Linked DNA regions of Homo sapiens: region 1 is linked to region 2. The links come from fine-mapping of genetic effects on gene expression. Tissue or cell type: whole blood. Region 2 holds a variant in brackets; the other region holds the start of a gene. All regions are shown on one strand. Distances are between the middles of the regions.

What was found. PIP is the estimated chance that this variant, and not a neighbour inherited with it, causes the effect.
Region 1: it holds the start of XAF1, and the variant in region 2 is fine-mapped to the expression of XAF1 in whole blood (TOPMed, PIP above 0.99).

The regions. Positions count from the first base shown.
Region 1 is chr17:6,753,963-6,758,116 of GRCh38, reverse strand. It overlaps XAF1 (XIAP associated factor 1), which reads right to left and starts at 2,071. Exons shown (of 7, transcript NM_017523.5): 1 at 2,007-2,071; 2 at 1-28. The coding sequence starts at 2,038. RefSeq lists an enhancer at 1,895-2,414.
Region 2 is chr17:6,774,366-6,778,715 of GRCh38, reverse strand. It overlaps XAF1 (XIAP associated factor 1), which reads right to left. Exons shown (of 7, transcript NM_017523.5): 7 at 3,069-4,350. FBXO39 (F-box protein 39) reads right to left here and starts at 2,501. Exons shown (of 4, transcript NM_153230.3): 1 at 2,444-2,501. It overlaps LOC124903905 (a long non-coding RNA gene), which reads left to right and starts at 2,606. Exons shown (of 3, transcript XR_007065594.1): 1 at 2,606-2,696. The variant T/A (reference allele first, on the strand shown) is at 2,205.

The DNA.
Region 1 (4,154 bases), 21 kb after region 2:
GAAGTTGGCAGAGACTACATGTCTTTTACTACAGGGTCAAGGTGTGGGGATAGAAAAATAGACTTATTTTCATATTATAAAACATGGAGCTGTATTTCATACCCAGGGCTAGATCTCCAGAGGCCTTAAGCACTGAACATGTGATGATGATGACACCACCTGCCCCACACTCCCTGTGTGGGTCCAAAAGTCAGAACAGTGAGGCAGCATCTAATAAGAATAAGGATGATCTACAGAGCTCTTACATTGCTGGGGCAGGGCATGGGAAGGAGCAGGAGGGAGGAATTACAAAGGGGCATGGGGAGCTTTTGGGGTGACAGGAAGCTTCATTATCTCAATTACGGGGATGGTGTTTCATGGATGTATATAACTTAGGCCAAAACTTATCAATTGCTACCCTTTAAAATGTGAGGTTTATTGTAGGTCAATTATACCTCTATAAGGCTGTTTTTAAAATGAAACATTTCATTTTAAATAATGTAAATAATTAAATTATTTCAATTTAAATAATTTGAGAGAAGTGCCAAATTCTCTTGAATCTTTTTTCTTGTTTTCTGGTGCCCCTGTTTGGTCCACAGTGTTAGGAACGCAGCCCTGCTAGGCTCACGCTTCCTGCCAGGGCCATGCCAACTTCCAAAATCTCCAAAGCGAGAGCTTCCCAAGTCTCCCCTGCCTTCAGGTTCACCTGCGCTAACTCACAGAGACTCCGAGGTTCTTCCTGGAGACCACAGTGAAGGAAGGGTTCTGAGCCTCCCACTTCCTGGGCAGGGCATTTTTCTCTAACCGTCCTTTTTGCCAAGAAGTGCCCCCTTTTGGCTGGGTGTGGTGGCTCATGCCTGTAATCCCAGCACTTTGGGAGGCCGAGGCGGGTGGATCACCTGAGGTCAGGAGTTAGAGATCAGCCTGGCCAACATGGTGAAACCTCATCTCTACTAAAACAATACAAAATTAGCCGGGCATGGCGGTGCACGCCTGTAATCCCAACTACTCGGGAGGCTGAGGCAGGAGAATCACTTGAACCCGAGAGATGAAGGTTGCAGTGAGCTGAAATCGCGCCATTGCACTCCAGGCACTCCAGCCTGGGCAAAAAGAAGCGAAACTCCATCTTAAAAAAAAAAAAAAAAGAAGAAGAAAGAAAGAAATGACTCCTTTCATTTCCATCAGCTCTTGCTTGTGGCAGCTTGGGAGAAGGGAAATGGGGTGGCTGTAGCCGTAAAGGCCCAGGGGACGAGAAGAGTTACATGCCCATGTTCCTGGCACAGGGGACGTGCTCCGAGAGGGACTGTCAAAGCCTCACTCCTCTTCTGCCCAGGCAGCGGGCACACAGGCAGCATCATCTTCCCTTCCTCTGCTCTCTCTCCTCTGCCTGACCTGGCCCCTTCTCCCCCTGCTCTTCCTGGGCTGGTTGAGAAACCAGAGTACTTGAAGGGTCTGGCTGGAGCAAAGCTCTCTGGGGAGGGTCCACTCAGGTCCCTGTCACAGGTAGGGAGCTTTGAGAATGGGGCTTTTTGATCGGTCAGATTCCGCGCCCCCCCTCCCGTTAGAGGTGTGGTCCCAGCCCCCTGCTCTGTCCCCCCTGCCCCGCCCCACGGCTCCCTTTCCAAGGAGGGTGAGAGTAGTCCTGGAGAATCTCCGTGGGACACTTTCTTTCACAGATGGGTGTGAAGGTCATAGTATCAGAACCCCAAATTAGGACCCAAGGTCTCACAAGTATGAGTAGCCCAGTTGGGACCACTGGCCGGGCTATTTGGCTTCAGAACTGTCCCAGAAAGCCTAACATTTGGGGGAAAGGGGCTGCAGTGAAGTGGAGGTAATGCTGCCCACCCCCACCCAGAGATTACCAAGTTTAAACCCTCCTACCCTTGGGGCCCACGGTCTCCAGCTGCTTGTCCTCCTAAGTGTTCTTATGCAGGAACCACTTTCTGCTCCCTTCAGAAACAGCCCTATGTCGTCTACGTCTCTCCCTCGCCAGCCCGGGTCTGCCGCTGGAGAAAGCACTTTCTTACCAGTTCCTGCACACCGAGAAGTCTCCTTCCATGTTCTGCTCTCTGCAGGCTTTCGGTTGAGTTTCGTTTCTTGCAGGCAAGGAAACAAAACTGAAAGTTTTCCGATGGCCCAGCCCACAGCTTCAGGGAGGGAGGAGATCTTCAGAATTCTCGGCTCAGGAGTTCCCCTTGATTCCTGAGGCTGGACCCTCCCAAGAAGCCCCTTTACAGCATGGCCAGCCCCTGCTGTCGCCCTTGGCCGTCATTCTTTGCTGCTGTCACAGCCGCATCTACCTCCCTGAGGCTGGCAGCCTGAGGCCAGGCCTCTCCTGGGCAGCACAGCAGCTTGTTCCCTCACCCTGGCTGGCTGGCTTCTCTCCGTCTGGGTCTCCATCCCTTTTCCAAACCATCCACCTCCCACCCTTCTCCCCCATCTCCGGCTCCCTTCTGGTCCTCCCCTGCAGGAAAGAGGGAACTTGCCATGTTGAGCTTGAATGCTGTTCCCTAAAAATGGCTCCTGGACTTCCAGGCGGTGAGGACCTTGCAAACAGCGTCCAGGGAGGCTCTGGGGATGCAGGGTGGTGTGAGCCCAGACCCAATCTGGTGTGTATCCTCCTGGGGGTCCTTAGAGTTTTTCCAGACCCTAGAAACAGCTGTGCTAACAGAAGAACTCTAAACAACATCTGGAGTGATGACAAGCAGGCCCAGAGAATTCCCGTGGCGTCTGCCAATGGGGTGGGTGCCGCCTCTCTGAGGAGGATAACAAGATTAAGGGAAATGTCCAGGCAGGGCTCCAGCCTCCAGGCAGGCTCTAAAATTCAGGCACTAAATGAGAAGCAGTGTGTGGTGGTACTGATGATCACAGTGATAGGAGGGAAGAATGAAAGACTGTTTCAACATTGTTCCTATGTTCCAGGCACCATTCTAAGCATTAGGTAGGCATTGTCTTCGTTTTAATCCCTCATGTAAGCATTATTAACTCCATTTTGCTATGGAAAACAGAGGCAGTGACAGAGTGAGACTCTGCCTCAAAAAAGAAAAATGAAATGAAAAAAGAGAAAATGGAGGCAGAGAGAGGCTAGGCCAATCGCTCAACATCAGAGCTGGGATTCACACCAGGTTGATATGACTCAGGTGTCTATGTACCTAACCAAGGCCCCATCCACCTCATTTGACAGCTAGTTGGGGTAGTGAGCACTTGGCTGAGAGTCAGAGACTGAGGTTTGCATCTTATCTTGTTCCCTTCCTCATCGGCTAGGCAAGCTCCTTAATCCTTCTGACCCTCACTACCCACTCCTGTCTGTCTCTGGGCAGTCTGTCAATATCAAGAATGAAAAACGAGTGGGCTTGGCTTGGTGGCTCATGCCTGTAATCCCAGCACTTTGGGAGGCCGAGGTGGGCGGATCACGAGGTCAGGAGTTCGAGACCAGCCCGACGAACATGGTGAAACCCCGTCTCTACTAAAAATACAAAAATTAGCTGGGTATGGTAGTGCTTGCCTATAATCCCAGCTACTCAGGAGGCTGAGGCAGGAGAATTGCTTGAACCCAGGAGGTGGAGGTTGCAGTGAGCCGAGATTGCACCACTGCACTCCAGCCTGGGCAACAGAACGAGACTCTGTCTCAAAAAAAAAAAAAAAAAAAAAGGGCTGTGCGCGGTGGCTCATGCCTGTAATCCCAGCCCTTTGAGAGGCCGAGGCGGGTTGATTATGAGGTCAGGAGATTGAGACCATCCTGGCCAACACAGTGAAACCCCGTCTCTGCTAAAAACTACAAAAAATTAGCCGGGCGAGGTGGCGGGTGCCTGTAGTCCCAGCTACTCGGGAGGCTAAGGCAGGAGAATGGCGTGAACCCAGGGTGGAGCCTGCAGTGAGCCGAGATCGCGCCACTGCACTCCAGCCTGGGCGACAGAGCGAGACTCTGTTACAAAAAAAAAAAAAAGAAAGAAAGACAGGAAGAAAGAAATGGAAAAGAAGGAAAAATGAAGAACTTTCTTTTCACATATTGTCTCCTGCTGAGATGGGATAGGGGTGGTGGCAGGGGTGTATAGATTGGACACCTTAGAGGAATGGAATGTGTGGCCAGGGGATAGGAGTGGAATTAGAAGTGACCATAAGTTGCTTCTCATCTACATCCTAATTTTCTTCCAAGATGTTTCCTCCTATAGACT
Region 2 (4,350 bases):
CATTTGCCTAAAAACTCTCCTCATGTTGTTTGCCCCTCCCAAACCCCCATTGTTCAAAGTTCAAGCCCTACCACTCCTTAAAGCTCTCACTGACTACTTTACCAGATAAACCCAAGATTATTGATCATGGCTCATAAAATTGTGGTGCTGGAAAGAGACCTGAGAATTGATTTCTTTTCAGATGAACACTGAAGGCCAGAGAGGTGAAGGGACTCACCTATAGTCTCACAGCAAGTTAGTATCGGGCCCCAGACTGGAACTTGGGCTTTTTGACTCTTTCTTCTGTACTTTTTTTTCCTGTCCCCACCTCTTGGACCACAAGGGTGCAGGGGCAAGTGAATCACATTTCCCAATTCAGGACTGACATTATTCGTCTGTGCAAGACCCCTCTCTAGTTTTATTTATTCATGTGTTCCATTTTAACCCTCTGTCCCATTCCGTTGCCCCCACCATAGGCAACTGTTCAAGTGTGTTTGACGTGTGTCTTTTTGTCTGTATGTGTGCTTGCCAAATGTGTACTTACTGTTTGTCGGACTTATTCCTGTGGCTCTGTGTACATTTCACCCATTGCGTCTAGCAGCTGAATAGAACCCATGGCAGGTATCCTGCCTGTCTCCCATCCTCTTTCCTTTGATGGACCCCAAGTCTCCTCCAGCTCCCACCAACACCACAGTGGCAGTGAGCATCCTCAAGTAAGCACAGTTGTGGGCCTCCCTAGGGACCTTCTCCAGGCTTTGTCCTCACTACGCCATCACTTTCTCTCACCACCCACTCACTGATTTGGCCCCTGTCTCCAGCTGGCCTTCCCACCGCCACATCCGAACAGACTTCCGTAAAGGACTGAACAGCAGCCCGTCCCGCCCATGACGTGGCGCCCTAGTGGTTCCCAGCATGGCTGTGTCCGTATTTAGCTTGCCTCCTTCTGCTACCTCTTGCCAGTGCCCCTCTTTGTATAATCTGTGTCCTTGCCTTTCTCTCCCAAGGGACCCACACACCCCTTGACAACCTCCTTCTGCTTTTGAGAAGGTACTTAAACATTTAACAAATGAAGAAATAGGTCTCTTCAATCACTTGCAAACTGCCCAAGGCTAGGGATCTCCACAGCACTCACCACCAAGCAAAGCTCCTAAAAGGTGCTGCAGAAGAGATAAACCAGTTTAAAAGCTCCACGAAGCAAAGACTTGGAATCAACCCAAATGCCCATCAATGATCGACAGGATTAAGAAAATGTGGCACATATACACCATGAAATACTATGCAGCCATAAAAAAGAATGAGTTCATGTCCTTTGCAGGGACATGGATGAAGCTGGAAACCATCATTCTCAGCAAACTAACGCAGGAACAGGAAATCAAACACTGCATGTTCTCACTCATAAGTGGGAGTTGAACAATGAGAACACATGGACACAGGGAGAGGAACATCACACAATGGGGCCTGTCGGGGGGTGGCGGGCAAGGGGAGGGAGAGCATTAGGACAAATACCTAATGCATGCGGGGCTTAAATTCTAGATGACAGGTTGATGGGTGCAGCAAACCACCATGGCACATGTATACCTATGTAACAAACCTGCATGTTCTGCACATGTATCCCAGAACTTAAAGTATAATAAAATAAATAAGTAAATAAAAGCTCCATGAAACCTTTTGGCCTAGCAAGGTTGTAGGTCAGGAAAAGTCATCAGACACTGGTGCTGTAAGGGTGGGGTTGGAAGAATATGTGTGTCTGGAAGAGTTGCTGTAAGGAGACTCCAAATTCTATTTAATGACTGGGAGCCTCCCCTTACCCCCCGAGACCCCATCAGAGGCAGTGTAGCTTAGTGGGCTGCATCCTAGCTATGCCCATTACAGTCGGATGACCTTAGGCAAGTCAATTTCTTTATGTGTGAATCCTCACATCTGTATATGGGGTAATAATAGTGCCTTTCTCTTAGTGTTGGGAGGATTAAGTGAGCTGATACCTGGAAAGCACCGGGAACAGTGAGTGCCTGCCACGTAGTAAACGCTATACAAGAGCTGGCTGCCATTAATAAGAAAGTTGGTGCCGAGGTACTTCTGCAACGTCCCGCCAAGGAAGATAGGAATACAAACACATCCATTTCACAAATACGGAAACGGAGGTGTTGGAAGGTGAATAAAGTTTCCCAGGGAGAACGTGTAGTAAGTGGGGAGATAGGATTCGAACCCAGGGTTGGTCCACCATA[T/A]CACACAGCTGCCAACCAGGGAGGGAAATCTAAAGATGTCCTACCCACCGCGGGAGGGGGAGTTGGCCTGGCAACTCCTGCAGCCAAAGATGCTTCCCAGAGGGGGTGATGAGAGCAGCCCGCCTCCCCGCCGCGGGCCTCGGGGCATCCCACCGCCACCCCAGCCTGCTCCGGCCCGCATTCTCCCGTTACCCGTTCGCTGAACCCCGCTCGGGCTGCAGGGACTGGAGCGCGCCTACCTGCTCCGCCCGCGCAGCTGTTGCTCCGACGCCAACTCCATGGGCGCCCCGGGTCTGCGCCTTGCTCTGGCCCAAGCTAAATGCCAAGCTCCGGCCGCCTTTGTGACGCGCTGCCGCCTGCAAGGCTCTGTTCCTGCCCCCGGGTCGCAGAGCCCCAAACCTGCAGTTGCCTGGTCAGTGGATCCCATGTGCAGAGGGCGAGACGGGGCCCTGGCCAGGCGTTGGGAGGCGGGAGGCTCGGCCGGCGCTCCGGGTGAGGATGGCACGCCCCCGCCCTTGCTTCTGCGCACAGGGAAGACATTCGGCCCCGAACTTGGGGCTCAAAACGGTTCAGTTCGCTGCCTTTCCCATCCTGACCCAGCCCCGGGTTTTTTCCGAAGCCGCCGCTGGATAGGTTGCATTACTAGGCTTCCCCCAGCCACTCTCCCTGCCCAAAGCCTTCAGAAGCCGCCCCTCTCCCCTTCACCTGGCCCTTATCCACTGTCCCAGCCTCATTTCTTTCCCCCTCCCTGAATGTCTTCTGCTCCCCTTTCCTTGGGCACTGCCCTTATCCTGGGGTCCTGGCTGCTGCCATTCCTGGCCCTGGAAAACCAGTGCGGAACCCAAAGAAAGGTGGAAGAGCAGCTTTTAGAGAGGTGTTTTTATTCTTTGGGGACAAAGCCGGGTTCTGTGGGTGTAGGATTCTCCAGGTTCTCCAGGCTGTAGGGCCCAGAGGCTTAATCAGAATTTTCAGACAAAACTGGAACCTTTCTTTTTTCCCGTTGGTTTATTTGTAGTCCTTGGGCAAACCAATGTCTTTGTTCGAAAGAGGGAAAATAATCCAAACGTTTTTCTTTTAACTTTTTTTTTAGGTTCAGGGGCACATGTGTAGGCTTGCTATATAGGTAAATTGCATGTCACCAGGGTTTGTTGTACAGATTATTTCATCATCCAGATAAAAAGCATAGTACCAGATAGGTAGTTTTTTGATCCTCACCCTCCTTCCATGCTCCGACCTCAGGTAGGCCCCAGTGTCTGCGGTTCCCTTCTTTGTATCCATGTGTACTCAATGTTTAGCTTCTACTTATAAGTGAGAACATGTGGTATTTGGTTTTCTGTTTCTGAGTGAGTTCATTTAGGATAATGGCTTCCAGCTCCATCCACGTTGCTGCACAGGACATGATCCCATTCTTTTTTATGGCTGCATAGTATTCCATGGTGTATATGTGCCACATTTTCTTTTTTTTTTTTTTAAGGCAGAGTCTCGCTTGGTTGCCCAGGCTGGAGTGCAGTGGCAGGATCTCGGCTCACTGCAACCACCACCTTCCAGGTTCAAGCGATTCTCACGCCTAGGCCTCCCAAGTAGCTGGGATGACAGGTGCTCGCCACCACGCCTGGCTAATTTTCGTATTTTTAGCGGAGACGGAGTTTCTCCATGTTGGCCAGGCTGGTCTCAAACTCCTGACCTCAGGTGAACCACCCGCCTCAGCCTCCCAAAGTGCTGGGATTACAGACATGAGCCACCACTCCCTGCCACCACATTTTCTTTATCCTTTCTACCACTGATGGACATTTAGTTTGATTCCCTGACTTTGCGATTGTGTATAGTGCTGCCGTGAACATTTGTGTATATATGTCTTTATGACAGAATGATTTAGATTCCTTTGGGTATATAACCAATAATGGGATTGCTGAGTCAAATGGTAATTCTGTTTAATCATGTCCCATTTGTCAATTTTTGCTTTCGTTACAATTATTTTTGGGATCTTTGTCATGAAATCTTTTTCCGTTCCTATGTCCAGAATGGTATTGCCTAGGTTATCTTCCAGAGTTTTTATAGTTTGGGGTTTTACATTTAAGTCTTTAATCCATCTTGAGTTGATTTTTGCATATGGTGTAAGGAAGTGGTTCAGTTTCAATCCTCTGCA